Linked DNA regions of Homo sapiens: regions 2 and 3 are each linked to region 1. Evidence: fine-mapped expression QTL. A gene starts in region 1. Each other region holds a variant in brackets. All regions are shown on one strand. Distances are from middle to middle. Region 1 holds the start of PADI2 (peptidyl arginine deiminase 2). Region 2 overlaps PADI2 (peptidyl arginine deiminase 2). Region 3 holds the start of SDHB (succinate dehydrogenase complex iron sulfur subunit B).

Evidence for each region.
Region 2: its variant is fine-mapped to the expression of PADI2 in whole blood (INTERVAL, PIP above 0.99).
Region 3: its variant is fine-mapped to the expression of PADI2 in whole blood (INTERVAL, PIP above 0.99).

Annotation. Positions count from the first base shown.
Region 1 is chr1:17,115,121-17,125,326 of GRCh38, reverse strand. PADI2 (peptidyl arginine deiminase 2) reads left to right here and starts at 5,876. Exons shown (of 16, transcript NM_007365.3): 1 at 5,876-6,047. The coding sequence starts at 5,956. RefSeq lists silencers at 3,151-3,334, 5,857-6,066 and an enhancer at 4,751-5,285.
Region 2 is chr1:17,094,929-17,105,134 of GRCh38, reverse strand. PADI2 (peptidyl arginine deiminase 2) reads left to right here. Exons shown (of 16, transcript NM_007365.3): 2 at 74-257; 3 at 2,076-2,148; 4 at 9,165-9,226. Among named protein-coding and RNA genes, the nearest start is that of PADI2, 19 kb to the left of the region's middle. The variant G/C (reference allele first, on the strand shown) is at 6,157.
Region 3 is chr1:17,046,297-17,056,502 of GRCh38, reverse strand. It overlaps SDHB (succinate dehydrogenase complex iron sulfur subunit B), which reads left to right and starts at 2,471. Exons shown (of 8, transcript NM_003000.3): 1 at 2,471-2,555. The coding sequence starts at 2,484. RefSeq lists enhancers at 1,932-1,981, 2,532-2,591. The variant C/T (reference allele first, on the strand shown) is at 4,059.

The DNA.
Region 1 (10,206 bases):
TTTTAAAAGCTGAAATAAATAGGTACAATTAACTTTAACAATACGTCTTTGGGCTTTTTGATGTTTGTTTGTTTGAGACAGAGTCTTGCTCTGTCGCCCCAGCTGGCATGCAGTGGCACGGTCACTGCTCACTTGCAGCCTCAACCTCGTGGGCTCAAGAGATTCCCCCAACCTTGGCCTCCCAAGTAGCTGGGAGTACAGGGGGTGCATCACCATGCCTGGCTAATTTTTAAATTTTTTTGTAGAGACAGGGTCTTGCTATGTTGCCCAGGCTCATCTCAAACTCCTGAATGTTAGTGATCCTCCCTCCTCAGCCTCCCAAAGTGTTGGGATTACAGGCTTGAGCCACCACATCCAGCTAATAATACATTTGCATTTAATGAAATACATTCACCATATTATCATTCCAACATGGAGTCAATTATTTTTAAAATTACCATCTTTTTCTCCTTGTAACTCCTTGAAATCTGTATTTTACACCAGGGGTCCCCAACCCCCAGGCTATGGACCATTACCAGTCTGTGGTCTGTTGGGAACCAGGCACACCGCAGGAGGTGAGCATTGGGCTAGCAAGGGAAGTTTTGTCTTTAGATTCCCATAGGAGCACAAATGCTATTGTGAACTGCGCAGGTGAGAGATCTAGGCTGTGAGCTCCTGATGAGAATCTAATGCCTGATGACCTGTCACTGTCTCCCATCACCCCCAGATGGGACCATCTAGTTGCAGGAAAACAAGCTCAGGGCCCCCACTGATTCTACATTACGGTGAATTGTAAAATTGTTTCCTTATGTATTACAATGTGATGATAGAAATAAAGTGCACAAGAAATGTAATGCGCTTGAATCATCCCGAAACCATCCCCACCCCCATCCATGGAAAGCCTGTCTTCCACAAAACAGGTCCCTGGTGCCAAAAAGGTTGGGGACCACTGTTTTACACCTACAGCATGTGTCAGTTCAGATTAGCCACATAAACCTTGTCTGGCAGTGGCTACATGTTGGAAAGCATGGGTCTAGGACCTCCCAGGCTTACTCTGGCCCCCTGGCAGCCCCTCAGACAACTGGCTTATTACATCTTCTCCAGAATTCACCTTTCTAGCTTTGCTTCACTGACTAAGGGTAGAACCCTGGCCCGGACAAGTCATCTTACCCTTGGATGTATAAAATAAGGGTAAGAAAAATACTTACTTCTGGGGTTGTAGCAAGGATTCAATGGGATAACATACACACAGTGCTTAGCGCAGGTGCCTGGCAGGGAATAAATGCTCCATAAATGGTGACCTAATGAATGAAAGCCTTAGCCCATCTTTCAGCATGGTGATGGTTAATTTTCTGTGTCGATTTGGCCAGGCTATGGCACCCCATCATCCAGTCAAACATCAGTCTGGATGTTGCTGTGAAGATATTTTTCAGATGTGATCAACGTTTAAATCAGTAGACTTTGAGTAAAGTAGATTGCACTCCAAAATGTGGGTGGGCCTCATCCAATCAGTTGAAGGCCTTAACAACAAAGACTGAGGTTTCCCAAAGAGGAGGCAATTCAGCCTCCAGAATGCAACATAGAAACCGTGCTGTTTCCAACCTGTAGATTTCAGACTCAAGACCGCAACATCAATTCTTCTCCCATTTCTGACTGGCCAGCTCTACAAATTTCAGGCTTGTCAGCCCCCACAACCATGTGAGCCAATTTCTTAAAATAAATCTCTCTCTCTGCATATATAAATGTACCCCCGAGTGGGGTACAGCCACAGCAGCACGCAGAAGAGACATGACTTCCTCATTCTGAACTCACGCAGTATTAGAACAATGGAGCACCCCAGCCCTTCCCCGCCTCTGAGCACGATGTCTCTCAGGACCGAGAGCTGAGGCAGAGGCTGAATCAACGCCCCCATCCCAGAGACTCTTCTCAAGGGAGTGAGACCAAAGGGTGGGCTTTGCCAGGGGAAAGGGAATGTGACGGGGCCAGGCAGGGCCAGGGTTATGGGGATCTGCTCTTGAGGGTATGACTGCAGGTCCCCATGGTGCAGAGTCAGGGGTTGGGGCGATCCCTGGCCACAGAAGGATTGCTTTGGGGATCCATGGCCCAGACCCCGACCTCTTCCTTTCTCTGGTCTCCTGCCAGAATTCCTGTCAAATTTAGCTGCCTACAGCAGCCAGAGTGATTTTCCTAAAGTGTACATCGTGCCGTTGACACCTTCCAAAGTCCTTCCCAGGCTTCCCCCATGACCCCATAAAGATAAAGCCCCAAAGCCTTTTCCACGACTTACAATGCTCTGTGTGACCTGGCCACAGCCAGCCCAGCCTCTCACATTGTGGAAGCTTTGAAGTATGTTATCAAACAGCATGTAGTCAGAAGCCCATGTTTACAAAAACTTAAAATAACTATATACGCATAGGAAATAACTACCGTCTACTGGAACTTGGGTCTGTGCCAGGCCACGATGTGCAGTACCTTACTGGATATCATCTTGTTATTCCTTGTTCCTTATAACAATTCCTAGTATCTCCTTTATAGAAGAAGAAACTGAGGCCCAGAGAGGCCCCCAGCTAGTGAGGGGCAGAGCCAGACTTGACCCCAGGTCCACCAAGACCAAAGTCCATGCTCTTCACTGCAGGCTGGTTGGTGCCTCTGTGCAGATGGAAGATAATAATAGCTCTCACCTCACAGGGCTGTCGTGAGGATTAAACAGGCTGAGATGTGTGTGTGAATGGGCTCTGAACAGCTCCTGGCATGGCGCAAGGGCTCAGGAAGTGTGCTGCCCCACAGCAGCCTGTGGGCAGCCCGGCCAGATCATACTCATAGATTCAGACTGATCTCTGGTACTAGGGTCATGGGTGATCATATTTTTTTTAACTTTTCCACAATGACCAGGTAATACTTGTGCATTTTTTTCTTTCTTTTTAAATTATTGTATGTATAGTGCTCTCAGTAAGCTGTCTGTTTCCTCAAAGCAGGCTTGTCGAAGTTTGAGTGGCCTCCCTGGTTCCCCCAAGGCCTGGCCCGGAGACCCCACACCCAGTGGAGGAACCTAACAGAAAACAGCTCAGAAGAGCCCCTCTTAGCCCAGGCACCCTGCCCACAGGCTTGGCAGGGGCGCTTGCTGGAGGGGTGGGTGCGGGTCTGTGCCAGGAACTGGCCTAAGCTAAGTCCCCAAAAGACACCGTGAGATGCTTTGTGGCTCTTCCGGATCCCAGGGGAGAGGTGGGAGCAGCCGTGATGCATGCGACCTCCGGCCCTGAATCCACCAACAGCTGTGACTACTTCAGCTATTTTAAACCTCTGGGCACCAGGAAACTCCTGTCTCATCAACCAGGCTCTGGGCCCAACATGATGGCCTGAGCCCGGGCAGGAGTCCTGAGTGTGGGTGGCCAGGTCTGAATTGGGTTTTTAAGGGGAGGGGGCTTCATTTCTTGAGCCTTGTGCCAGGCTCTGTGCTAGTATTTTCTGCACCTTGTTGTCTCGTTTAATACCGTCCTTACACCGTGCTGAGGGATCAGTTACTTCACAGAGGCAGAAAATGGGGCTCCGAATGGCAGGGTACCTGGCCCAAGGCGGCACAAAAGCAGAGCTGGGCCTAGAACTGCGACTTCCTTATCTACAAAGCATGGACAGCATTCTGCCCCTGCCCTCACTCGGCCTTGCCCCCTGCCTCCACCCCAGTGGCCCTGCAAGCTCCTCCCTCTGCCACTCTTAGGAGCTCTGCAACCCAGAGTCAATTCCCCCACCTCCTCACAGCTCACTTTCTTCATCTGTAAAGTGGCGGAGTTACTGGGAGGGTTCAGTGATCTAACTCTAATACATGAAAAGAGCCGCTTGGAACAGTGCCTGACCCACAGAAAGAAAGCAGTAAGTGCCCGCTCTTACTCCAGCTCCCCTGGGTATTGCGGTCTGATGTTATCACTATCTTGCCCAGTGTCCTGTTATGAGCTGCCCGGGGTCTCCGTCAGTGGGGGGTACAGTGTCCTCCCCCACTCTGGCCCCAGTCTCCCCATGAGTCAAATGAAAGTTAGAGCCCCAGGAAGGTGAGAACCCTGGTGGGTGCCCGTTATCTGTCACACAGTAAGGGCTCCAAAGTCACTCGTGGCAGAGGGGTGCCCAGACACGAGCTCACCTCTGGGGGCGCCTCGAAGTCTCTCCAAGCTACACAAGTTTTGTCCCAGTTTGGCAGGTGGCCACCCGAGAGATTCCTCCTGATTGGAGGATGTGCTCAGCCGGGTGCCTGGAGTTCATCAGAAGTTACTGGCCTCGGCCGGGCGCTGTGGCTCACGCCTGTAATCCTAGCACTTTGGGAGGCCGAGGCAGGTAGATCACCTGAGATCAGGAGTTCAAAACCAGCCTGGCCAACATGGAGAAACCCCGTCTCTACTAAAAATACAAAATTAGCTGGGTGTGGTGGTGCCTGCCTGTAATCCCAGCTACTTGGGAGGCTGAGGCAGGAGAATCAATTAAACCTGGGAGGCGGAGGTTGCAATGAGCTGAGATGGCGCCATTGTACTCCAGCCTGGGTAACAAGAGGAAAACTCTGTCTCAAAAAAAAAAAAAAAAAACAGTTACTGGCCTCTCCCTGGGTCTGTGAGCTGTGCCTTTGGGGGACAAATGACCTCCTGGCTAAAACTCGGGCCTTCCCTCTTCCCCACTCACATTCCTCCCAAATCCCTGCCACTCAGAAGCAGCTGGGCTCTTCACCACCTCCTAATTTGGGCCGCCTCAGGGAGAAGGTTGGAGTCCAAGGGCTGGGTATATCAGCACTGGGCACTTGTGGGCCTCACCCCTCTTGTCTGGGGGCACCCGTTCCTGGAGCTCCATCTTCCATCAGCTCTAACTCCTTCCCAAACACACATCCCCTCCGCCCCACTCCTTCCCTCCCACGGCCTCTGCCCACCCCCCCTCAGTTTCTGTCCTCACCTACCAAAGACCACTTCCTCACACAGGGCTGATGTATGTGTCTGAACAGCACTCCCACTGGGTCCCAGGGGAAGGGCTGGGACATGGGAGGGGCTGGCCGAGGCCCACACTGATTGTCATCCTACATCTCAGCCTCTGTGAGACACACGATGACCTCTGGGTGGCACCCCCCTTCCCTTGGTGGCCCAGGCCAGAACCGGGGCCCTAATCCTTACCCCTCTCCTCTCCCTCCACCCACACATCCTATCAGTCACCAGGTGCCACCAAAATCCCAGTCCCTAAGCAGTGGCCGGGTCAGTCCCCACCTCTCCAGCTCTGGCCACAGCCAGGGGCTTCCTTGCCCCTCCCCAGCCCAGAATGACCCATTTCACGAGCACACCCGACCACGGCTCGCGGAGACAACCACTCCAGGCTCCCATCTCCCACCCTCCAATGCCTTGGCTTGGCGTCCTGGTCTCCCTCAGCTGCCGGGTTCCCCATCCCCACCGCTTCCCGTTTTCTCTATGGTGAGGTTCATCTGACTGTTGGGGGATGGGGGTACCGGGCTGCACCCGGCTTTGCACAGGCAGCTCCCTCTCCTCGCCTTTAATTTGCAAACGCCTCCTTTAAGAAGGTTCCAGGATCGTCTTCTCTGGGAAGGCTTCCTGGCCCCCAGGCTGGGTTAGGGCACCCTCTTTGTGTTCCCACATTTGCATTTTCAGCCCCACTGGGCTGGGGCGTCCGGAGGGGAGCTAGGGCCCTCCAACACCTGGGCGCCCACCGAAGGTTTGTCGAATGAAAGAATGACAATCCAACCATGGAAAGCACAAAACTGGTCCCTGATGACTTCGCCACGACCTCAGCGGGGCGGGACGAGTTAGGGGCGGGACCACGCTTGACGGACAGGCCCGCAGCCCACTGCGAGAGGACTGGGGCGGGCCGCCCCGCCCACCGGCCGCTGGATAAGGCTGCGCGCGGGGCCGTGGGGCGCAGGCTGCTGGAGAAGGCGCACCTGCTGCAGGTGCTCCCGGCCGCCCCGGACCAGCGAGCGCGGGCACTGCGGCGGGGAGGATGCTGCGCGAGCGGACCGTGCGGCTGCAGTACGGGAGCCGCGTGGAGGCGGTGTACGTGCTGGGCACCTACCTCTGGACCGATGTCTACAGGTGAGCCGGCCCACCGTGATGCCCGGGCCGAGATCTCGAGCCCAGAAATCCTGAGACGCGCTCAGACTCGGGGACGTGGACAGCCTTTGTCCAGCCCGAGTTGTCCCTCATCCCGAGCCCCCGAGCCCAGAAATCCTAAGAATCTCATCCAGAAACCTGACAACCCCCGAACCTTGTGTCCACCTTCCAGAAACCCTGAGACTCTCCCAGACCCCCTAACACAGCCTCAGCCCCAGCTCCCTCACAGACCCTCCCTTTCACCCGTAACCCTCCGTCTGGCCCTCTCCAGTTCTCCTCCCGGGGGACCTCACACCCCTTCAGCTTCCCTGCCGTCCTCTCCCCTTTCACTTCCCCTCCGCACCTCACTTCCCCTCGGACCCACCTCAACCCAGCCCCTCTCCTGCTTCCCACTCCCAGTTCAGCGGAGCTTCCGCGGAGACTTGCCGGGGACTGGGGCAGGACCCGAAGGGAGCTGCCCTGAGGCTGAATCCGGCCCTGGAGGTTACTCAGGCTCCGATTTCGCCCTGTGGGGGCTGCTGGTGGTTGCTTGTCCCCAGGCACTGGCCCTGAGCTCCGTGTCCCCAGATACCTTCCCCTGACTTCATTCTGAGACCACAGAGGGACAATATTCTACCCAGCTGACGACGGGGACTTGGGGTGTATAGCGGGGTACTTTGTTGGAAAAGGATCCTGATTCAGAGTTCTGCTCCCTCCCCTTCTCTCTGTCCAAGAACTTGGTAGAGTGCGGGATGTCCGAGACAGCTGAAGGTAGGGTAGGGCCCTACCACTCCCCCCGCAATCCCAGAAAGCAGCCAAGTCCAATGATCTGTCTCCCTGAGTAATGGGACGGGGCCTTGGAAAGGTGTGGCTGGTGTGAATGAAAGGGTGGGGTTATGCTGGGGTTTGATCTGCCCCCTCTATTCCAAGCATTTAAAACCTCCCCATTGCTAGGGTTGGAGGGGTCAGTGCTGGGGGCAGGGAGCATGCAGGACTCTGAGGTGGGACCCTGTGCTGACACCGGATGAGTCCCCTATCCTCTCTGCCTCAAGCTGAACTCACACGGAGGCACCATCGTGGTTTATGGCTCTCAAATCATCCTGACACCTGGAGCACCCTGCCTCTCCCAGGCCCCCACCAACCCATCATGTGTCTCCCCACACAGCCCTGGCAGCCCTCCCACCTGCCCAACCAGTCTCCTGCCACCGCTGCAGAGGCACTGGCCACGCTGATACCAACAAGCCCCAGGACTAGGGACCCACTCCATGCCTCTGTCCCTGGCCTCAACCTCTGCCTTCCCCTGGGCCTGGGCTTCAGTTGTCCCCCATGTAAACCTCAGAGGTGGACTGGGTGGTCTCTGAGAACAAGAACACAGCAGTGGAGGGTGGTCCAGGCTCTGGTGGGGTGCAAGAGCTCCCCTGCCTTCCCCACCCCCAGCCCTGAACTGGGCACCGCTAGGGAGTGGGCGCGGAGCCAGAGTGCTCAGGTCTCTAAGCCTCAGCTGTCACCATACCCACCTGTTTATTTGCTGGGGCATGGTTGGTGCCGCCTGAAAAGCTGGCATGATCCTCCCAGTCGGGGGTGGGGAGCAAAGGAGGGTTCCTGCTCAGGCGCCCTGCTATCGCTCTATCCTGGCAAAGAGAGGCCCAGCTGGGGTAGGGGCACAGAGTGGGGCAGATATGGACTCAGCCTCCCTCTAGCAGGGGGCAGCAGTGTGACGATTCCCCTTGTCCTGTCTCAACGACCACAAAGACCCTAACCCCCACCGGCACTTAAGGTTCTCCACCACCACAGAGAGGGGCAGTGCGCTCTAGACCAGTACTGTCCAGAAAAGTCCAGTTTGAACCACAACAAAACCACAATTGCATTTTAAATCTTCTAGTAGTCCACACTTTTTTAAAGTTAAAACAACAGGCATAATTTTAATAATATATTTTGTTTAACCCAATATTTTAGAATATTATCATTTCAACATGCAATCAATATAAAAATTATTAAGGAAATGGTTTACCTTCCTTTTTTCATGCTAAGTCTTTGTAATCCAGTGCACATTTTACACTTCAGCACATCTCAGCGTAGATTGAGTGCATCTCAGGTGCTCACTGGCCACCGTGAGCCAGTGACACCGGGACAGAACAGGTCTAGTGCAGAGTTTCTCAATCTCGCACTATTGCATTTTGGGCTCGATATTTCTTTGTTGTAGCGGGATGTTTAGTGGCATCCCTGACCTCTGTCCCCTAGATGCCAGTAGCAACCCCCAAATTGTGACAACCAAAAATGTTGCCAGACAGTGCCAGCAGTCCCCTGGCAGGGGGCAAAATCACAGCCAGCTGAGACTCACTGGTCCAGTGGAAGGAAGCCTCTTCCAGGACTAAGGAGCTTGAGTTGTTACTGCTATTGTGACTCGAGTTACCTGTAGTAATGAGAGCAACTGCCAGTATTGATAACAGGAGGAGGTATTAGTGGGCACTTAGGAACTGAACCCACCACCTCCTTTCTTCCTCACCATAGACCCTGGAGGGTTCATTGATCATCCCATTTTACAGATGAGGAAGGTAAGGCTCAGAGAGATGAAGCCATTTGTCCAGAGTCACACAGGACTCAGGTCCAGGTCTGTTTGACTCAGAACTCATGCTCTTATACCCCACTCTGTCCTATGTGACCCTAAAACCAGCGGGTTGAACTGGACGGCCCTCTCAGCCTGTGTCTCTTCCACCCTGGCCACGAGCCCACTGTCCCCAGAGACTTCACCAACTCCCATTTGGCCCTCCACTCTTCCCTGAGTCCTTTGCTGCCCGGACACAGGTCCTGGCTCAAGACCCCAAGTGATGCCCCCAGAGCCTCCAAGTAGACCCCAAGGAACAAGGCCCGGGGGTGCTGGGCCCAGTTAATTACGGAGTGGCATCCTGACCCTCACTCCTTCTGAGTCGCAAAGGTGAGCGAAACGGCCTCAGCACCCACTCCCTTTCCCAAGGGCTCTGGACTCCCTTTCCTGTGATGCTGGCACACAGGATCCCCTCCAGACACATAGCAGGGGCCTCCCCAGCCTCATTCCTCAATAGACCTTGTGGTCCTGGCAGGCACTGCCCTACCAGCTTCCATCCACGGGCTGTGTGACCTTGAGCAAATCGCTTCACTTCTCTGAGTCTCCACTGACCCAAATGGGGGTCGATCAGAGAACAGGAGGAAGGATCTTGTATTCAATAGAAGATGTACACTCAGGGTCACAGTGATGAACAATTGACCACTATGCTGCCCTATGAGGGGTCATCCAGGCCACCATGGGCAGGGGTGCTCTGGGCCACCCACGCTCTCCCAGCAAAACTGGCCCCCCTGGGGATGGATGCCTTGACCTAGCCTCATTCTGACTGCTAGTCTCCAGCAAGCAATGAATAGATACATAGAAAGAAGGAAGTAGGGTGTTTGTTAGAAATTGTACTTTGTGATTGTTGTTAAAGATACTCGCTGTTTCCTTCTGCTCTTCCCAAATATACTCATCTTAGTCTTGGCACAGGTACACCTGGCCCACACAATCTCCTCCGGTGGTCCCTTTAGCCGACAGTCACTTCTTCAGTGGGGCTGGCCTGGGTCCCCATCTGATTTGGGCTTGAAGTTGGAAAGAGAGCACAGAGGGAGTCCCTAGGTTGGTTCCATCCTGGCCACCCACCTCTTGTGAGCCCTGGAGGCATGGACACTCCCAGAGTCTGGAAGGATTATTAGGGACAGGGCAGCCTCGGAGTAAAGTAGGTAGCAGGGTGGTCACTCTCTGCCCACAAGCTGGGCCTTGGGAATGGCTTCTTCTGTTCCTCCCTCGGCTTATGCCTCTGTCAGTGAGAGTTCTCGAGAAGGCAGGGCTCTTCTTTTCCTCCCTGGTGTACAGGAGCCAGGATCCAGATCCTGAGGTCTGCAGGAGCTTCAGGACACTGGAATGATCTTAACATTGTCCCTTTGCCTGTGCAGAGGTTCCAGCTGCGTCTGTGAGGTGGAGGTGGGAGGATTCCCTTCCCTGGGATTCCCCAAGGCAGAGGCTGACCAGCCATTGTCCCAGTAGAAGACAGAAAGAAGATAAATGTCAGCTAGTAATATCAAGTAAATAGTAATAATTTGCCCATAACTCGCTGGCAGAAGATAGGAAGAAGGTATCAGGCAGGCGCTCCTAGAC
Region 2 (10,206 bases), 20 kb after region 1:
GAGTCTCCTCTTGAAGCCCCTCATCCCACCTACCCCAGGGCTCTCCCTAACCCTCTCTCATCTCTCCCCACAGCGCGGCCCCAGCCGGGGCCCAAACCTTCAGCCTGAAGCACTCGGAACACGTGTGGGTGGAGGTGGTGCGTGATGGGGAGGCTGAGGAGGTGGCCACCAATGGCAAGCAGCGCTGGCTTCTCTCGCCCAGCACCACCCTGCGGGTCACCATGAGCCAGGCGAGCACCGAGGCCAGCAGTGACAAGGTACCACGGCGGGAAGTCCAGCCTCTGCGGGCCCGGGACCATGCCAGGATAGAGGCAGGGTGGACCAGCCCTGTCCCATAGAAACTGCACGTGGGCCATGTGTCATTTTCAGTTCTGCAGTAACCACATTGAAAAGGCAAAAAGAGGCCGGGCGCAGTAGCTCAAGCCTGTAATCCCAGCACTTTGGGAGGCCGAGGCGGGTGGATCACAAGGTCAGGAGATCGAGACCATCCTGGCTAACACGGTGAAACCCTGTCTCTACTAAAAATACAAAAGATTAGCCAGGCATGGGGCGGGTGCCTGTAGACCCAGCTACTTGGGAGGCTGAGGCAGGAGAATGGCGTGAACCCGGGAGGCGGAGCTTGCAGTGAGCCGAGATCGCACCACTGCACTCCAGCCTGGGCGACAGAGCGAGACTCCGTCTCAAAAAAAAAAAAAAAAAAAAAGAAAAGGCAAAAAGAAACAGGTGAAATTAATTGTCTTAATATCTATTACTTAACCCTATCTATCAAAATATTATCATTTTGACATGCTATCAATATAAAAAATATTAACAAAATTGTTTGTTTTTTGTTTGTTTGTTTGTTTGAGACGGAGTCTCCCTCTGTCACCCAGGCTGGAGTGCAGTGATGCGATCTCGGCTCACTGCAAGCTCCACCTCCCAGGTTCACACCATTCTCCTGCCTCAGCCTCCAGAGTAGCTGGGACTACAGACGCCTGCCCTATGCCTAGCTAATTTTTTTTTTTTTTTGTATTTTTAGTAGAGATGGGGTTTCACCGTGTTAGCCAGGATGCTGTCGATCTCCTGACCTTGTGATCCGCCCACCTTGGCCTCCCAAAGTGCTGGGATTACAGGCGTGAGCCACCGCGGCCGGCCTGTTTGTTTGTTTTTAAGAGACAGGATCTCACTCTGACTCCCAGGCTGGAGTGCAGTGGTGCGATCATAGCTCACTGCAACCTCAAGCTACTGGGTTCAAGCAGTCCTCCTGCCCCAGCCTCCCGAGTAGCTGGGACTCCAGGCACCTGCCATCGTGCCCAGCTAATTTTTTTTTTTTTTTTTTTTAGAGACAGGTCTTACTATATTGCCCAGGCTGGTAGTTTATATTCTTTTTCCATACCAAATTTAAAATTAGTGTGAGTTTTACACCTTATAACACACCTCCGTTCAGAATAGCCGCATTTCCAGTGCTCGGTAGCCATGTGGATGTTGTGGGGTTAGACCATGGAACGATGGCTTCGTAAAGGATGAAAATTATAGACAGCTGAGTGATAGAAAGTTTAGAGGCTCAGAACCATAGAATCATTGGAGCTTACAGTCACAAGTGTCCTTGGTCTATCTGTAAAATGGGGTGCTGAACATCCATGGGTGATTTGCCTAAGTGGTGAGGCTGAGACCAGAACTGTCTCCTTTCTGGGTTCCGTAATTATGAACTTTACCATGTGCCCCATCACAGTGATGGCATTGAACATGGTCCAAAGAAAATAGCCTCAGCCCTGTCCCCTCAGTGGGCACTAGACGTGCAACATGGCAGATATGGGGGACCCCAGGCAGCAGAATGCACACAGTGGCACAGGAAGGCAGACAGCATCCTAACTGCCCTCTCAGCCAGCAGGAGGGGAGTCCACAGTCTAGTTCAGTTACCTGAGGGAAACCGCCCACCAACCCAGGAGTTCTTCCTGGAGGAGAGGGTTCTGATGTTTGGAGAGGGTTGGCTTGACAAGCTGTGAGGGACAGCAGTTGCTTCAGGTTTTCCTGCTTGTGATCTGTGATCTCTGCTCTCTTTTCTCTCTACTCCAATGTGCCCCCTCCCCACCAAGGTCACCGTCAACTACTATGACGAGGAAGGGAGCATTCCCATCGACCAGGCGGGGCTCTTCCTCACAGCCATTGGTGAGTTGGCATGGTTGCCGTCTCAGTGCCTTCATCACCCAGGGCCTGGCACTGTTGTCCTTCTCTGGGGCACTTAGGCGGTTCTCAGTGCGGCTGACCTGGCACTTGGAGCTTCTTCTGAATGGCACAGGCCTGGGGAGGGATGTCACATGTGCCCCACCCCGGTCCTTCCATACTGGGGTGGGGGCTTATCTGCAGGAAGAGGCACTCCCTGATCCATCAGCAACCCCCCCCCAAGTGTCAAGGTCCCCTTCCCAGGCTCTGTGGCCCTAAAAGAGAAAAAGGTGAAGTGTGTTTCCCCCTGCCTCTCCCCTGCAGCCTGGAGAAGAGTGTCCCTCTCATGGTGAGGGGAATGGCCACAGTCTATAAAACTAGCAGCTGTTCTTGACAATCCCAGCTGCCCCCTGGTTCTCCCCAGATTCAGCCCCGAGGGTGCAGAGATGCAGCCTCCAGGTCCTTAACTCACCTAGTCCAAGTCCTTCATTTGATCCACAGGATGGTGAGGCCCAGAGAGGTTAGGGAATTTATTCAACATCACACAGCAACTGGGTGGCAAGTTGAGTCCAGAACCCAGAATTATCCCTGTCTCAGGTTCTCTCCATTGCATCACACTGCCCTGCGCTGGGTGCCAGGCCTGCATGCCAGGGAGGTGGAGCCTAGCCTGGCTCTACAGGACCCTTGGCTGTGATCATCTGAATTTTCCATCACTCCACCCCCTGAAACTGAGGCATTACTTTTATGCTATTTTATTTCATTTTTTAATCATAGAATGTTAAAGCCAAGAGGACATTTCAGAGGGTCATTTTGTTCATCCAACCTTGGTTTAACATTGACAGAGTTGCCGCATGGCAGAGGAAGGGAACTACCAGTTATTGAGAGTCAACTGCATGCTGAGTGCTTTCAAAATAATGATGCGGCCTGCTTATTGCAGGCCTACTGTGTGTCTAGAGCTGCACTGGGCACTTTGATGAGGAGGAGGAGGGGGAGAATGGTAAACACCTGATATTAATTGAGCACCTATGGTGTGCCAGGCTCCAGTACTCAATGTTTTACCGTCACGATTTCAATCTCTTCTTCCAACTATTCCAAGGATAGATATTATTATTATCATCCTCATTTTATAGATGAGAAAATCAAGGCTCAGAAAAGGTAAAACAAATACTTGCCTGCAGCTACATCTCCAGAAAATGGTTGGTGAGATGCCAATCATTCCAGTTATCCCACATTCTCAGGGGGGGTCTCAGAATCTCCCCAAGATACAACTAACTCCCGAGCCAGCCCCTTCCTCTCTAGCCCTGTGCTCTCAGCTGCTTAAACAGGCTTAGCAGCAGGGCCCTTCTCATTCTTGGCTAATTCCCAAATGGGCTTGGTTGCTGGTCCCCCTGTCCCTCTTTCTGTCCCAAGGAGGTGCCCAGCCCTGGGGTAGGGAACCTCGGGATGACCTTGGTGAGGGTGGCAGATGATCAACAAAGACTCCTGGGTTGTACTGAGCCCTGGCACGTGTGTGAACCTTGCATGCACACAGCATCCAGGCAGTCTCAGATGACAGTCCCTGAGGAAACCTAATCCCACCAAGATAGGGACACCTGAGGACGGGGGCAGGAAGGGCAGGGGCCTGACACCTGTCAAATGAGGATGATCCCAGAAGGCTGACTGCACCATTAACAAGACTTCCACCAAAGCAAGACAGACTTAGGATAGATGGCAAAATAAGCGTCTATAAGGAGGCAGGACTGGACTTTTCCTCCTCACTAGGAGATGACAAAGCTGTGCTTAGAGGAAGCCCGCTCAGAGTTGGCGGCATGGCTGAGTCCCAAAAGATGCCACATGTGCCCACGACAAGTGACCAAGTTCATCCTTCCGAGGTCTGTTAATAATTATTTATTTAACTGCCACAAGTTCCAGATATTTAGATTCCATGGGCCAATCAAATGTCCCCTGCCCCCACCCCCCAAAAAATGAGAACACTAACAACTTTGATGCTTGGCAAAAAAAAGAAAAAAAAATACATCAATAAAACAATTTGTGGCCAGGCGCGGTGTCTCACGCCTGTAATCCCAACACTTTGGGAGGCCAAGGTGGGCAGATCATGAGGTCAGGAGTTTGAGACCAGCCTGGCCAATGTGGCGAAACCACATCTCTACTAAAAATACAAAAATTAACTGGGCGTGGTGGCACGCACCTGTAGTCCCAGCTACTCAGGAGGCTGAGGCAGGAGAATTGCTTGAACCCAAGAGGTGGAGGTTGCAGTGAGCCAAGATGGTGCCACTGCCCTCCAGCCTGGGCGACAGAGCGAGACTTTGTCTCAAAAAAAAAAAAAAAAAAATTTGCTATCAACTATCACTATCATTTTAACTCTTAAAAAATAGGCAAGGCATAATCTCAGAATAAAAGACAGTCATGGCCGGGCACAGTGGCTCACGCCTGTAATCCCAGCACTTTGGGAGGCCGAGGTGGGCGGATCACCTGAGGTCAGGAGTTCAAGACCAGCCTGGCCAACATGGTGAAACCCTGTCTCTACTAAAAATATAAAAACTAGCCGGGCATGGTGGTGGACGCCTGTAATCCCAGCTACTCAGGAGGCTGAGGCAGGAGAATTGCTTGAAACCAGGAGACAGAGGTTGCAGTGAGCTGACACAGTGCCACTGCACTCCAGCCTCGGCGACAGAATGAGACTCTGTCTCAAAAATAACACAAAACAAAACAAAAAACAGAATAAGAGACAGTCATTCAATTGCAAAAAGAAACTAACACCATTGAACTTCTGTTTCCTGTTCCAACAGAGACCCTGGTGAAAATCTGGTTTCCCTTGGGGACCACTGTTCTCTCTGTCCCTTCTAGGTTTTCTCTTTTCTCGAGCATCTGCCCCAGGAGCCCTTGAGCCCGTCATCCTGAGTAATCAATCACTCAGGGGCAGCGCCTCAGAGGCAAGCCCCCCCCCAACCCCAATATCTTGAGAGGCTGGGACTGTCCCCTGGGCACAAAAATGTATCTGAATCTCTCTCACCCTGGTCCTATCCTGAGTCCACATTGAGCAGAAAGAGCCTTGGCTTCTGGGTAGACAGAAGTAAGCCTAAGATCTTTCTCTGTCCCCTCCAGCCAGCTTGTGACAAGTCACATCATCCCCCTGAGCCTTGGCTTCCTCATCTATAAAATGCGCTTCACAGAGCAGCCTTGCATGGTGTTTACAAGGATTCAGTGGGATGTTGTGTGCGAAGGGCCCGGCACAGAGTGGGTGCTTAGTCAATGCTCCGCCTGCTTTTCTCTCTTGCTCTTGAGGTGGCCGCATTTTCTCTCTGCCTGGGTGAAGTTAAAGAAATGTATGGTCTCTCCTTCTTCCTTCTGGGATTTGGGAGCAAATTCATGATTCCTTTGGCCAGATCAGGCTCTGGGTCTTTGTCCCAATCCCGCCAAGGACTTGCTGTGTGACCTTAACAAGTAACCACCCCCACTAGGACTCACTTTTTACAAACTATAAAATAAGGGGTTTGAGCTAATTAATCCCTAAGGACCTTCAAGACCCTGGTTAGGGTTGATTTGCAAAGACTTCCATTTTTTGGGAGGGATGGGGGAGAGCAAGAGGTGAGGTGTGGGGAGGGAGGAAGAATCCCACCCTATTTGAGGTCCTGGCAGTGGAAGGAGTACACATATGCGGGCCCCAGAAAATTTTAACATCAACCTAAGGGGCTTGATCCTATGCCTTCTCCCCAGAGGCTGGGATACTTGCCCTGATTGGCTGTGGGGGAGGGTGTCCTTCCTTCCCATAACATCTCAAGCTGCTTAGTAAGGCAAGAAGGCCAGGCACCCTGCCACTCTCTGGCGACCCTCCAAAATGCTTGTGCCTCTCGGTCAGAGCTGAGGCTTCAGTGTCTTCATTCTCAGGGCAGACTGCCTTGAACCCAATCCTAGGGACATTTCCCGTCAATCTGCCCCACACCCAGGAGCCACCTGACGCCTTGGGGCTATTCTGGGGAACTGAGGTGGGATCCAGAGCCTCTGGGAAATGTC[G/C]TCTGGAGCCTGGAGGCCCTGAAGCAGAGCTCCTCTCCCTCCTCCCCCTCGGGAAGGCAGAGCCATCCCAAGAGGCAATGCTCTGGGCAGGTCACACCAGCCCTGTTCTCTGCCCCTACCCGCAGCATCCCACTGGAATCTAGTTAAATCAGACATTGGGGGAAGCCTTGCAGGGGCGAAGTCCCATGGGCATGACTACAGGGTGGGCGGTCTCTGAGGGTGAAGGGGCCAGAAGGTCATTTCAGTGGATTATGGGGACAGGTCATGGGTCATCAGAGAGGAGTTATGAAGCCCTGTGAGAGGCTGGGAGGACGATAAGGGAGCCACACTGTGAAATGCCCACATTTCGTAACAGGAAGGTAACGAAACCTGTCTGAATTCAGTAAATCAGGAAATCGCAATAAGCATGAGAGAGGTTGCCTTAGGCAGCTGAGAAGAAGGGCTGGACAAGGAACTGCTGTCTTTCTTTAGAAACAGTGTGTTACTATTTTATTTGATTTTGTTTGTACTATGTCCAAATATTACATGAATAAAATGTTTCCATTTAAGAATTCATAATGAAATGAAGCAGTATAGACTGCACCATAATTTCTCTCCTAGCCCACGGCCCCACTGCTTTAATGGACTCGCCACAAGGAGTCCCAATGTAATGTCACCTTACGGCCTAGAGACGAAGGCCGCAGGGCTACCAAGGTGGGGAAATGGGCACTTCCTCTGGGAATGACCTTCAAGGGAGCAAGTCTTGTGTCTTTGACTTTGGGCTGGGCTTTTGGAAACAGCTTGCAGGGAGGTCAGCCTGGGTTCATTGCAGGGAACAGCAGAGAGCAGGCAGCCGGAGTCCGAGGCCCTGCTGAGAGCCTGGCTCTGCGTTCTGGGAACTTCGGTGGTCACTTCCCTGCTGCGGGCCTGGGTTTCCTCATCTGTATCGTTAGGGGGTGGGGGTGGTCACGCCTCCCCTGGAGTGGCCGAGAGAACACACCTTGGAAAACGCTGTGCAGCTGCAGAGCAGGATGCCCGCAGGGGAGAAATTTTTACCTTGAAAAGGACAGAGTGGCTCCCTAAAGAGGCTGGACCTGCGGCTCCTTCCGAGGGAGGAGTTTCAGGAAGCCAGCTCCCTGAAAGGCAGCATTCAGTGGACGTGACCGGCTGGAAAGTTCACAAAGGTCCAGGAACCAAAACCAGTATTATTCCTGCCCCTGCACCCCAGGCTCTTAGCCCCTGGTGGTACCGCCTTCCCTTCTTTCCCCTGGGGTCCTTATCCTGCACCAGCCTCCCAGATTACCAGCCCGATTTGCTGACAAGTGGCTTCTCTGAACCTGGGTTTGCTGCCCTGTGAAACGAGAGCAATGCTATTCATCTCATGGGACTGTGGACGCCTTGAGAGCAGGTGCTGTGCCTCCATTGCCCGTTGCCTGGTACAGCTCCCGGAGCAGTAGCTCCTCAGCAGTGAAATGTGGAGTGAATGCGATCGGAGGGAGGAGGTTACAAATTATGCCTTACAGCACCTAACTCACCGCACAGCTGCAGAGGCTGGGACACACAAGACTGCCTCTCTCAAGGGCCAGGCGCCCTTGCAGCCTCCTTCTAGACTGGAAAAGTCACATGCAGGTCTAGGGTATGCAGGCTATAGGCAAAGGGAGGACCTGAATGTGATCTCTGGACTCTGGGCTTGGTTGGCCCAGAGAAGGGTGACATCAGTGCACTTCGTGTGCCAGGACCCTCCTTTCCATGCCCTCCAGGCAGAGGGTGTGCCTGCCACGGGGACTAACCAGGAATGCATTCATTACCACCCAGCGCCCACCAGGTCCAAGTCATGCTCAGCGTGAGATGAGCCCACTCGGGCAGCTCTGGGGACCTGGAACGGGCACATGTCATGTGTGTGACACTCCCAACACCTTCCCAACCACATCCCTACTCGACCTCATCCGTCTCCAACTCAAGGCAATTTCGCCTCCCAAGGGACATTTGACAATATCTGGAGACATTTTTGGCTGTCACGACTGGGAGGGATGTTACTGGCATCTGGTAGGTAGAAGCCAGGAGTGCTGTTAAACATCCTACAATGCACAGGCTGCCCCCACACAAAGAGTTATTTGGCTCAAAAATGTCAGTAGTGCCTTCCATTGCAGCTAATGCATCTGCTGTAACCAGGAAGGGCCCCATGTTACAAGTGAGGAAACTGGGGCTCAGAGAGGTCCTCTAACCTGCCCAAAGTCACACAGCTTATAAGCAGAGAACCAGGGTCTAAACCCCACCTTGTCTGATACTAAACCTTTTCACTTCCCTACAGTCTCCACAAAGCCTGTCTCCATGGCAGGCCTAGGGATGCTGAGGGTCCCTTCACCAAGAGAAGGGATAAGTGGGGGCCTGGCCCTGGATCCTCCATCTAGACTCACAGGTGACCTCAGACCAAGAGGGGTTAGAGACAGCTTCCCACCCACAGTAAAACCCTCAGTCCTTGAAGGTGGGATCTAGCCCACTGGAAGTTCTGGGAGAGAAAGAGACACGCACACCCAGGTGCACATGTGCACACCTATGCGCATGCCCGGGTAGACTGAGAAAGGCAGTTTGGGAATGCTATCCCTGTTAAGTTTTCAGAATATGAACTATGAATCAGACCAACCGCACTGTGTACCCCAGTTCTGCTAGCGTCCCTATGTGATCTTGGGCATGCGACTTCACCTCTGAACTGAGGCATCCAGATCTGTGCAGCGAGGATCATTCCCCAACCCCCAGCCAGAACAATGAAGTGGTAGGAGGTCCCAGACCTCCCCGATGGCAGCTCTTGCAGCCGTAAGCTACGAGGTCCACACGGTGTCTGCTGACGGTCTCCAGTGGGTAGTGGGATGTTGAGGCAGGGGGTTGCATAAGATGACTTCAGCGAGGTCCTCTCTTTCCCGTGACCAAATGAATGGCTGAGACGCACCCAAATCCCACAGGTCTTCCTCTTGCCCCTGCCCTGCCCTGCCTGGCAGGCTCAGCAACTCACCCATGTCTCTTCTCCCCAGAGATCTCCCTGGATGTGGACGCAGACCGGGATGGTGTGGTGGAGAAGAACAACCCAAAGAAGGTACCTAGCTTTCAGGGCAGGCACCACCCTGAACCCAGGGCTTCCGAGGGCACAGCCCCAGATCCCGCAGGCAATTCCCATTTCACAGCTCAGGAGACTAAAGCCCAAGACAGGCTCCCAGACACACAGCATACCAATGATGGAACCCACAGAGGAGCTCAGGCATCTCCTAGAGACGGCAACAGAGCAGGCTCCTGAGTCTCAGTTTCTCCATCCCATGATGGGGACGCCCAATTCATGGAACTGCTGGGAAGGATAAATGTGCCCGCTACAGAGGAAGCACTGTGAAGGCATTTGCTCTTATTATTTTGCCTGTTCTTTTAAGACTAGGGAGGTGGGGGAGACAGACCCTCAGGACAGAGGGTCGCATTCATCATTCTCAGTTCCAGGCGTGGTATTATCTCTGCTGGTGCATGCACGGCCCCTCTCCTCTTTCTATTTATTCTTGCATTCATTCACCATTCATTCATTTGTTCCCTCGTTCATTTACTTATTTTCTTTTATCTTGCATTCCCCACTCCCATTCTGCTCCCCCACAGAGGACCATTTTGCTGGGTTTAATGTGTCTCTTTCTGCTCTGGTGACTCTCAGGAGGCATGTGGTGTGGTTGGTGTGCATGTATTTTTAATTTGTGCAGACGGCATGGTGTTCTCCATCACATTCTGTTTTGTACTTTTCCCTCAACCTAGTTTTTAGGCTCCATCAGTCTTGCTCTGTGTACATTCAGGCTGTTGCTTCTAACTGCTTTCCATTTTCTGCCCTTCTGTATTATCTCAATTTTTGCCATGGGCATATGTGACTTTTATAATAACACTCTGAAGCCTAGAGTAAAGTATACATAGAGGGGTACTTACGAAGTAAAATAAACACAGCCTGATGAGAAGCCTGGGTCCTAGCAGCCTGCTACCCTGACTCTCTGCAGGTCAGGAGAGGGTTCTCAGCCATGTGGGGAAGTCCCTTCTTCTAGGATCGTGAGCAAG
Region 3 (10,206 bases), 69 kb after region 1:
GTTAGGAGTTAGAGACAGAGCGGCAGTCTTCCCATATCTCAGCCAGTTTGGGTGACCCAAGAGGCCCCATGGGGCAGACCAGAGGGGCCCTGTTCCAGTCCTGGGTCAGCACCAGTGAAAGTCAAGGTGACCTCAGCATTGTTACCAGTTATCCACAAGACAGCCACGTGAATCACAGAATCTTAAATCAGAGGGCCCAACACCCTAATGGTTCAGGCAAGGAAACTATAGGTCAAAGATGGGGAGGGGCTTATCCAAGGTCACATGGCCTTGAAGAGAATATTCCAGGTTAGACCTAGAGGTTCAGGCCTCACTACACACCCCCTTTAATGAGGCCACACTGGCGGTATAGCGGGGTTCCAGTCAAGGACTCCAGAAACAGCCCATCCAGCCAATTGACCTGGCCATCTCAATGTCTCCAGTAGCATCCACATCAGCTGTGAGAGTGGAAACCAAAGACTATAGAAAGGCGCCCTTCACATGTCCAAAACAAGCAGACAGAAAGGGGAAAAAAAAATCACTCCTACGAAACCCCGGGACCTGCAAGGTTAACAATCTACACAAACGCGTGGAGTGACTGAAGAGGCAGGTGCCTTGGAGGCTCCAGGCCACTCCTGCCCAAGGTAAGTCCCAAGAGTGAGGCCAGCTCTGAGCAGATCCATGGAGGGGGCTGGAAAAAGAAGCTGAGATGTCTAAAATGGAAACTCAGTAAAAAACAAAACCAAAAAACTTTCTTCACAGAACTGCTGTGGGGATTAAGTGGGATAATGGACCATAATGTTTGGCACAGAGTAGAAATGGTTTCTTATATTAAATGGCTAACAAAGCCACCAAGGACTGGGTGTCCTTCTCTGGGCACACCCTCTCGTACAGAACAGAGCTCACAGTGTCTAGCTGTCTGCTCACTTGCCGTCTCCACCACTAGAGAGTAAATTCAATGAGCAGTGACCACCTGGCTTGCTCATTCCCTGCAGCATCCCAGCACTTGGTGCCTGCCACATAGTAGCCACTCCATTCGTATTTATGAATGAATGAATGAACGAACAAAAGAATGGCACCTTTGCCAGCCACCCTTGAAATCACCTCAGCTCATTCACCAACTGCCCAGTTTGTTTGGGACTCTCAGTGCAGAAACCTGGGCAGCCTCGGGCAAGCTGCACGGTATGCGACAGAAAGGGCTGACTCAAGCCAGTAAGCGTCAGAGATGAATAATAAGACTGACAAATTCTTAGGGAGGCTAGGTGTGGTGGCTCACGCCTGTAATCCCAGCACTTTGGGAAGTTGGAGCAGGATGATTGCTTGAGCCCAGCCTGGGCAACATAGCCAGACTCCATCTCTACAAATAATTTTTTAAAAAAATTATCCGGGTGGCCGGGCGCGGTGGCTCATGCCTGTAATTCCAGTACTTTGGGAGGCCGAGGTGGGTGGCTCACGAGGTCAGGAGTTCAAGACCAGCCTGGCCAAGATGGTGAAACCCCATCTCTACTAAAAACACAAAAAAATTAGCCGGGCATGATGGCGGACGCCTATAATCCCAGCTACTCGGGAGGCTGAGGCAGGGAATTGCTTGAACCCGGGAGGCGGAGGTTGCAGTCAGCCGAGATCGCGCCACTGCACTCCAGCCTGGGAGACAGAGCGATACTCCATCTCAAAAAAAAGAAAAAAAAAAAAACTACCCGGGTATGGTGGCTCACACGCCTGTAGTCCCAGCTACTCTGGAGGTGGGAGGATCGCTTGAGCCTGGGAAGTCGAGGCTGCAGTGAGCCAAGACTGCACACCGGCCTGGGCAACAGAGTGAGACCCTGTCTGAAAAAAAAAAAAAAAATTGGCCGGGCGCAGTGGCTCATGCCTGTAATTCCAGCACTTTGGGAGGCCAAGGTGGGCGGATCACGAGGTCAGGAGTTCAAGACCAGTCTGGCCAAGATGATGAAACCCCGTCTCTACTAAAAATACAAAAAATTAGCCGGGTGTGATGGTGTGCGCCTGTAATCCCAGCTACTCGGGAGGCTGAGGCAGGAGAATCGCGTGAACCCGGGAGGCGGAGGTTGCAGTGAGCCAAGATCGCGCCATTGCACTCCAGCCCGGGAAACAGTGCGAGACTCCATCTCAAACAAACAAACAAAAATTCCAGGAATAAAGAGGTTGAAATCGGGGCAGGGACCCGGATAGGATGGCTCCGCCCCATCTAAGTCTTAGCCCCACCCCCTGAAAGTCGCCCTGCCTCTCAGACTCCTCCCCTTTCTGAGAAGGTCACGGGGGAAGCCAAATGGGCATGCGCCGCTACTGCGCTATTGCGCACGCTCGCTGTGCTTGCCCCGCCTTCCCTCCGCCCACCCGGGAAACCGGAAGCCGCCTCCCACTTGGTTGCTCGTACGCGGCTAGTGGGTCCTCAGTGGATGTAGGCTGGGCGCCGCGATGTTCGACGGGACACCGGCGGAGAGCGACCTCGGGGTTAAGGGGTGGGGCTGACGTCAGGAGCCAAGATGGCGGCGGTGGTCGCCCTCTCCTTGAGGCGCCGGTTGCCGGCCACAACCCTTGGCGGAGCCTGCCTGCAGGTGAGTCCTGGAGCCTCAGAGAGGGAAAAGTCAGGAAAGCCACAGAGACTGCCTGGAGCTGATGGGGCTGCGGAGAGACTGAGGAAGCATAGGGCAAGGCCTCAGGGAGATGGAGGACCTCCTCCCCCTGGTGCAGTGCTTTGGTTTGGCTTCGAGCATCCCTGTCAAGTTATCTTTCTGCGCCTCGCAGCAGCTTGTGAGTTAGGGCACGGGCAATTTTTTACAGCTAAGGGTGCGGGGGGGGGGGACGTTCAGAAAGGGGACTTGAATTGCTCAAGGTCACATGGCAAGCGAATGACTGCTGGAACCAGAATTTGAATCCAGACATTGGAGTTCCAAGCCCTTTTTCTGCCACCAAACTATCGCCTCTGTAGAAAAGGGAGACCTGCGGGGTGTGAAGGATGGGAATTGGGAAGCGAGGTAATTCCTCAAGGGTGCGAGGTTGAGGACCGGGATGGGTGAGGAAAGGACATGTGAATTGTTGGGGACAGGGCAGGGGAAGGGAGAGATGGAGGGAAATGCACCCAGCCCCCTACCTCGAAGGATCCCGGAGGTGGGTGGTGGGGGTTGCAGGAAAGACTGGGTTCCTTAAAGCAGTGTCACCACAGTTTCACTAGTATCCTCTCAGTGTTTCTGACTCTAAAGGTCATATAATAATACGGACCTCATAGAGTTGACATGGAATGACAGGTAGAGGGCTTGGCGCTGTTCTTGTTTATTACTATGCCGTGTGCAGTAACAGATTTTCCCACGCCCCTTGTATGGCCAAGAAACAACACATTTCTGACCTGCCTTCTAAGTGGGAACATTTAGAAGGGGAAGGGAAATTGCTTTTGTATACATAAGGGACTAAGGATTTGCAAATCCTTTCTAAGTCTGTTCCTCTTCTGGGATTCTCAACAACCCCTTTAAGGTGGGCAAGCAAGAATCCTTACCCTCCTTTTTGGAGCTTTGAAAACTTGAGGCCCCCAGAAAGAAAATTTTTGGCTTGCTCAAAATATCACATTCCCAAGAAGCAGACCTGAGGCAGTTTTTTAACATGGTACCAGAAAAACTCCTTAGCATAGATCTTGGGACATGGTTGGTGTCCAAGAAATTTTAGTTCCTCTTCCTCTCTTGCACTTAAATGAGGACATCTTTCATCTTAAGTGCCTGCTATGGCTGCATAACACAGTACATATTGCCCATGTTCCAATCCTGGTTCTATCCAGCATGCTGTGTGTGAACTTGGATCCACTCTGTCTGCATCAGCCTTTCTGAAAAGGGGAGATAGAGGAAGAAGACAGCCTACCAGAGCCTCAAGCTGACATCCTCTCAGTATTAAATTGATGATTGATAATGAGCTTGTTTACCTGTTCCTTTTATAGTTGCTGAGCAAACAATTAAATTGTGAGAGCCCCACTAACGAGAGAGTTCCAAGCCCCTCTTCTAAGAATGCATTGTAGAAAAGGCTAATTTCATAGGTCATTTTTGTAATTCCAGGCAAGGTCTTTGCAGGGCCTC[C/T]TGAGGGCAACAGAAAATAGAAGAGCCCCAAGGCCTCCCCTTCCTTGTGGGAATGTACATGTATACCCACAAAAGCCACCTCAAAAGAATTCAGTAATGAGCTTGGTGTGTTACCTGTGGGTAACATTCAGGTTCAGGTTCTGAATTCTTTTTATGCTTATAGTCTGACCACTGAACCACAATTCTGCCTGTAAGTATTTGACTGTAGTATATTAACTATTGTTTGTGTTGCCTTATTTCTTCATCTGGACTATGAACTCCTTTAGGACAAGAACTACCTACTTAAAAGTGTGTATCTTGCCAGGTGCAGTGGCTCATGCCTGTAATTCCAGCACTTTGGGAGGCCAAGGTGGGTGGATCACCTGAGGTCAGGAGTTCAAGACCAGCCCGGCCAACATGGTGAAACCCCGTCTCTACTAAAAAAATAAAAAAAAAATTAGCTGGGCGTGGTGGTGGGCGCCTATAATCCTAGCTACACAGGAGGCTGAGGCAGGAGAATTGCTTGAACCTGGGAGGTGGAGGGTGCAGTGAGCTGAAATCGCACCATTGCACTCCATCCTGGGCGACAAGAGCGAAACTCAGTCTCAAAAAAAAAAAAAAAATTTAAAAAATGTGCATCTTGTTCCTTAGGCTGGCAGGGCTAGGATACCTATTTACAAATCAGAATAATACAAAGACTGATAAGGTTGCCAATCTTGTAGAGCAAAAATTTTTTTCTGGGCTATGCTAGAAACTTGACCCCCCCTCCCCCGGGTTATCTTATGAGGCAGATATTAATACTACCCACCCTTTACAAAGGAAGAAATAGAATCCGAAAAGCTAATAATTTGCAGAAGAATACACAGCTTGTAAGTGATAGAGCTTGGATTTCAAGCATCACCAATCACACTTTTCAGCAAGCCTGCACCTTGTATTTTACTCAGGCTTATCTTCATACAGTCCTTTTTGCTTTCTTCCTCTCTATTTCCCCACCTTCTTCTCTGGCCTCCAAATCTTTATCCACTCCATCCAACTCCAAGCCTGCACCCTAAGGACACTTTACTGGAGGAACAACAACCAGCCTTCAGCACCATTCAGAATTCACCCTTCTCAGTTCAGTTGTTGCTTACCTTGCTTAAATTATAAACTATGAAATTCATACTATCCAAGATTTCCTAGGAATGTACTTTCTGCCTTGAATACTCATTAGTCTTTAGATTAACGTAAAAATGCTTTCAAGGGGCCCTCTTTCCTTTTGGATTTGTAGTATAAATTGCTGGGCAGGTAACAAGGGGAAAAAAATCATATAGTCTCATTGTATGATTAGAGCAACAACTTCTTTTGTTCCTTGGATCTCATTGTGAAATGGAATTATCTTTTTGCACTGTTGCGTTTTATGTTTGCGTTTTCACCACTGGTTATAATGGCTAAAAGGTTGGATTTTTGAATCAAGTGACCTGTGTTGCTATATGATCCTATCCTCGTCTTTTAACTGGGAACAACAAAACATTTTTCATAGAGATGTTATAAAGATTAGAGATTATTTGGCACCGTGTGTGACAGATTATAAAGGTTCGATGAATGAAATCTGGCAAATTTTTAGATATATGTATTCAACGAATTTTTTGGTGGAACACAGATAACATAATCCTGAGAATTAACTCTTTGTACAGACCTCAAGATGAGCAAAGCTCTATCACTTTCAGAACCATGACCACTCTGGTGATTTTGATTTCAGAATCTTCTTTCATTCTGGTAAACCCCCTTTGCCCCACCAAATATTGTATGAAATACATTTTTTTTTTTTTTTGAGACAGAGTCACGCTCACGTTGTTGCCCAGGATGGAGTGCAGTGGCGGAATCTTGGCTCACCGTACCCTCCGCCTCCCGGATTTCAAGCAATTCTCCTGCCTCGGCCTCCCAAGTAGCTGAGATTACAGGTGCCCGCCATCGTGCCTGTCTAATTTTTTTGTATTTTTAGTAGAGACGGGGTTTCACCGTGTTGGCCAGGCTGATCTCGAACTCCTGACCTCAGGTAATCCACCTGCCTCGGCCTCCCAAAGTACTGGGATTACAGGCATGAGCCACCACGCCTGGCCTATAAAATACATTTTTGACACAAAACAAATTTAAATTAGTTGTACTGAAAAAAAAAAAATGATGACATTTTGGGGCACTCCAAAACTGATGTTGGGATATGTCGACTTAGATATTCAGTGTAGTACATCCTGGCATTGCTCTTATTTCACATCATTCATATGATAAGACTTTTTAAAAATTTAAATTAGCTCTAATACAAACTTAGTCTCTTTTGGAAAGATAATACGTGATCAATTATCCGTGTAGAGTGGATATGAAACAGATATTTAAATGTTATAAAGAAATGTTGAAGGGAAAACCTCATTGCAGGTAACCACAGTCATCCCACAGGCCTTGTGGTTCTGATACCCAGCTTGATAGAGCCTAATGCCTGTTGCCCACTGACAATACTAAATCAGGCTTTAGAACTAGGGGGTTATGCCTGGCACAGTGGCTCACACCTGTATGTAATCCAGCACTTTGGGAGGCTGAGGCAGGTGGATCACGACATCAGGAGTTCAAGACCATCCTGGCTAAAACGGTGAAACCCCATCCCTACTAAAAATACAAAAAAGTTAGCCGGGCGTGTGACACGCGCCTGTAATCCCAGCTACTTGGGAGGCTGAGGCAGGAGAATTGCTTGAACCCAGGAGGCAGAGAGATCTCGCCACTCCACTCCAGCCTGGGTGACAGAGTGAGACTGTCTCACAAAAAAAAAAAAAAAAAAAAAAAAAAAAAAGAACTAGGGGATTATGCTCCAGTCCCAGATTCTGTTTAAAGCCCGGTTAGGGGCCAGGCGCGGTTGCTCACACCTGTAATCCCAACACTTTGGAACGCTGAGGCAGGTGGATCACTTGAGGCCAGGAGTTTGAGCCCAGCCTGGCCAAATGGCAAAACCTTGTCTGTACTAAAAATACAAAAATTAGCTGGACTTTATGGCACATGCCTGTAATCCCAGCTACCCGGGTGGCTGAGACAGGAGAATTGCATGAGCCTGAGGGGTGGAGGTTGCAGCGATCCAAGATCGCGCCACTGCACTCCAGCCTGAGCAACAGAATGAGACTCTCCAAAAAAGAAAAAAAAAAGTCCAAGTTAGGGCCAGACACAATGGCTCACACCTGTAATCCCAACACTTTGGGAGGCTGAGATGGGAGGATTGCTTAAGCCCAGAAATTCCATACCAGCTTAGCCAACATGGCAAGACCCTGTCTCTACAAAAATTAGCTGGACATGATGGTGTGCACCTATAGTCCCAGCTACTTGGGAGGCTGAGTCAGGATGATCGCCTGAGCCCAGGAGTTAAAGGCTGCAGTGAGCCATGATCTCCAGCCTGGGCAATAAAGCTAGACCATGTGTCTATAAAAATAAAAAATAAAGGCCGGGCAAGGTGGCCTGTACCTATAATCCCAGCACTTTGGGAGGCCAAGGCAGGCGGATCACCTGAGGTCAGGAGTTCAAGACCAGCCTGGCCAACATGGTGAAACCCCGTCTCTACTAAAAATATAAAAATTAGCTCGGCGTGGTGGCAGGCACCTGTAGTCCCAGCTACTCAGGAGGCTGAGGCAGAAGAATCACTTGAAGTCGGGAGGTGGAGGTTGCAGTGAGCCGAGATCGCGCCATTGTACTCCAGCCTGGGGGACAAGAGTGAGACCCCATCTCAAAATAAATAAATAAATAAATATTTTAAAAAATAAATGAAAAATAAAAGTGTCCAAATTAGAAGTAAAAACTTGAAGTAGCCCCATTTTTTAAAAGGCATATTGTCCCACTTACCCTACTATCTGCCTCAGGCACAGCAGCCACCCACTCTGGAAAATAGTTTTGTCAGTTGCTTAAAAAAAACTAAACTTGTAGCTACCATACAGCCCAACAATTACACACCTGGGTGTTTATCCTGAGAAATGAAGATGTAACGTTCACACAGAAATTTGTCCACAAATGTTCATCTCAGCTTTATTCATGTCACCAAAAATTAGAACACCCCCAATGTCCCTCAGTAGTTACATGGTTAAGCAAATTGTGGTACATGATACCTTGGAGTGCTACTCAGCTATAACAAGAAAAAAGCTATTGCTGTACACAGCAACTTGGATGAATCTCCGGAGAATTCGGCTGAATAAAAAAAGCCAATTCCAAAAGGCTACATACCAGATGATTATATTGATATAACATTCTTGAAATGACCGAATTTGAGAAGTAGAGAACAGATTAGTGATTGCTAGGGCTTACGGAGTACAGGGGAGGTAGGGTGGGAGGAAGTGGACAGGGCTATAAAAGGGCAATGTTAGTGATCCTGTGCTTATGGGAATGTCCCCTATCTTGACTAGCACTGTCAGTATTCTGGTTGTGCTGGTGTGCTACAGTTTGCAAGATGTTCCTGTTGGGGAGACTGGGTAAAGAGTATGTGGGCCCTGGCATGGTGGCTCATGCCTATATCCCAACTCTTCGGGAGGGCCAGGCAGAGGATCACTTGGGGCCAGGAGTTCAAGACCAGCCTAGGCAACACAGTGAGACCCCTATCTCTACAAAAATAAATGTAAAAAAACTAACTGGGCATGGTGGCGCATGCCTGTAGTCCTAGCTACTGGGGAAGCTGAGATGGGAGGATCGCTTGAGTCCAGAAGGTTGAGGCTGCAGTGAGCTGTGATCATGCCACTGCACAATCAGTGACAGAGCAAAACTCTCTCTCTTTTTTTTTTTTTTTTAGCTTGAGTTTCACTTTGTCACCCAGGGTGGTATACAGTGGCACAGTCTTAGCTCACTGCAACCTTTACCTCCCAAGTTCAAGCCATTCTCCTGCCTCAGCCTCCCTAGTAGCTGGGATTACAGGCACACGCCACCACACCCTGCTAATTCGTTTTTTTGTATTTTTAGTAGGGACGGGGTTTCACCATGTTGGCTGGGCTGGTCTTGAATCCCTGATCTCAGGTGATTTCCCAACCTCAGCCTCCCAAAGTGCTGGGATTACAGGTGAGAAGAGTATGTGGAGTCTCAGTATTATTTTCTTCTTTTTGTTTTGTTTTGTTTCTTTGAAACAGCGTCTCACTCTGTCACCCAGGCTGGAGTGCAGTGGCGCAATCTTGGCTCACTGCAATCTCCGTCTCCCAGGGTCAAGCGATTCTCCTGCCTCTGCCTCCCGAGTAGCTGGGATTACAGACATGTGCCACCACACCGGGCTAATTTTTGTATCTTTAGTAGAGACGGAGTTTCACCATGTTGGCCAGGCTGGTCTTGAACTCCTGACCTCAAGTGATTCGTCTGTCTTGGCCTCCCAAAGTACTGGGATACAGGTGTGAGCCACTGCACCTGGCCTCAGTATTATTTTCTATAAATGCATATGAATCTATAATTATTAAAAAATAAAAAGGTTGGCCAGGCACGGTGGCTCACGCCTGTAATCCTAGCAGTTTGGGAGGCCAAGGCAGGCAGATCACCTGAGGTTGGGAGTTTGAGACTACCCTGACCAACATAGACAAACCACATCTCTACTAAAAATACAAAATTAGCCGGGCCTGGTAGCACATGCCTGTAATCCCAGCTACTCGGGAGACTGAGGCAGGAGAATTGCTTGAACCGGGGAGGCGGAGGTTGTGGTGAGCCAAGATTGCACCATTGCACTCCAGCCTGGGCAACAAGAGCAAAACTCAGTCTCAAAGATAAATAAATAAATAAATAGTTTAATTTTTTAAAAAAGCATTTAACTATGGTTATATGCAGTAACATATGAATCTCAGAAGCATTATGTTGAGTGAAAGAAGCTAGACATGAGACTACGTACCGTATGATGCCATTTATATGAATTCTGTAAAAGGCAGACTCGTGATGATAGCTGATCAGTTGCTAAGGGTAGGAAAAGGGGACTTATGTTTGCCATCAAGGGCACAAAAGACCTTTTTGGATGGAAATACTCTGTTGTAATTGTGGTAGGATTACATTGCTTTGTCAAAACTCATTATACCCTTAAAATTAGTGAATTTTATTATAATGAATTATACCTTATTAAATCTCACAGAAAAAAGACCAAAAAAAAAATGGGACATTAAGCAAGCAAAGTCCACTGGAGTTGATACCTTCAGGAATCTTTCCTCTC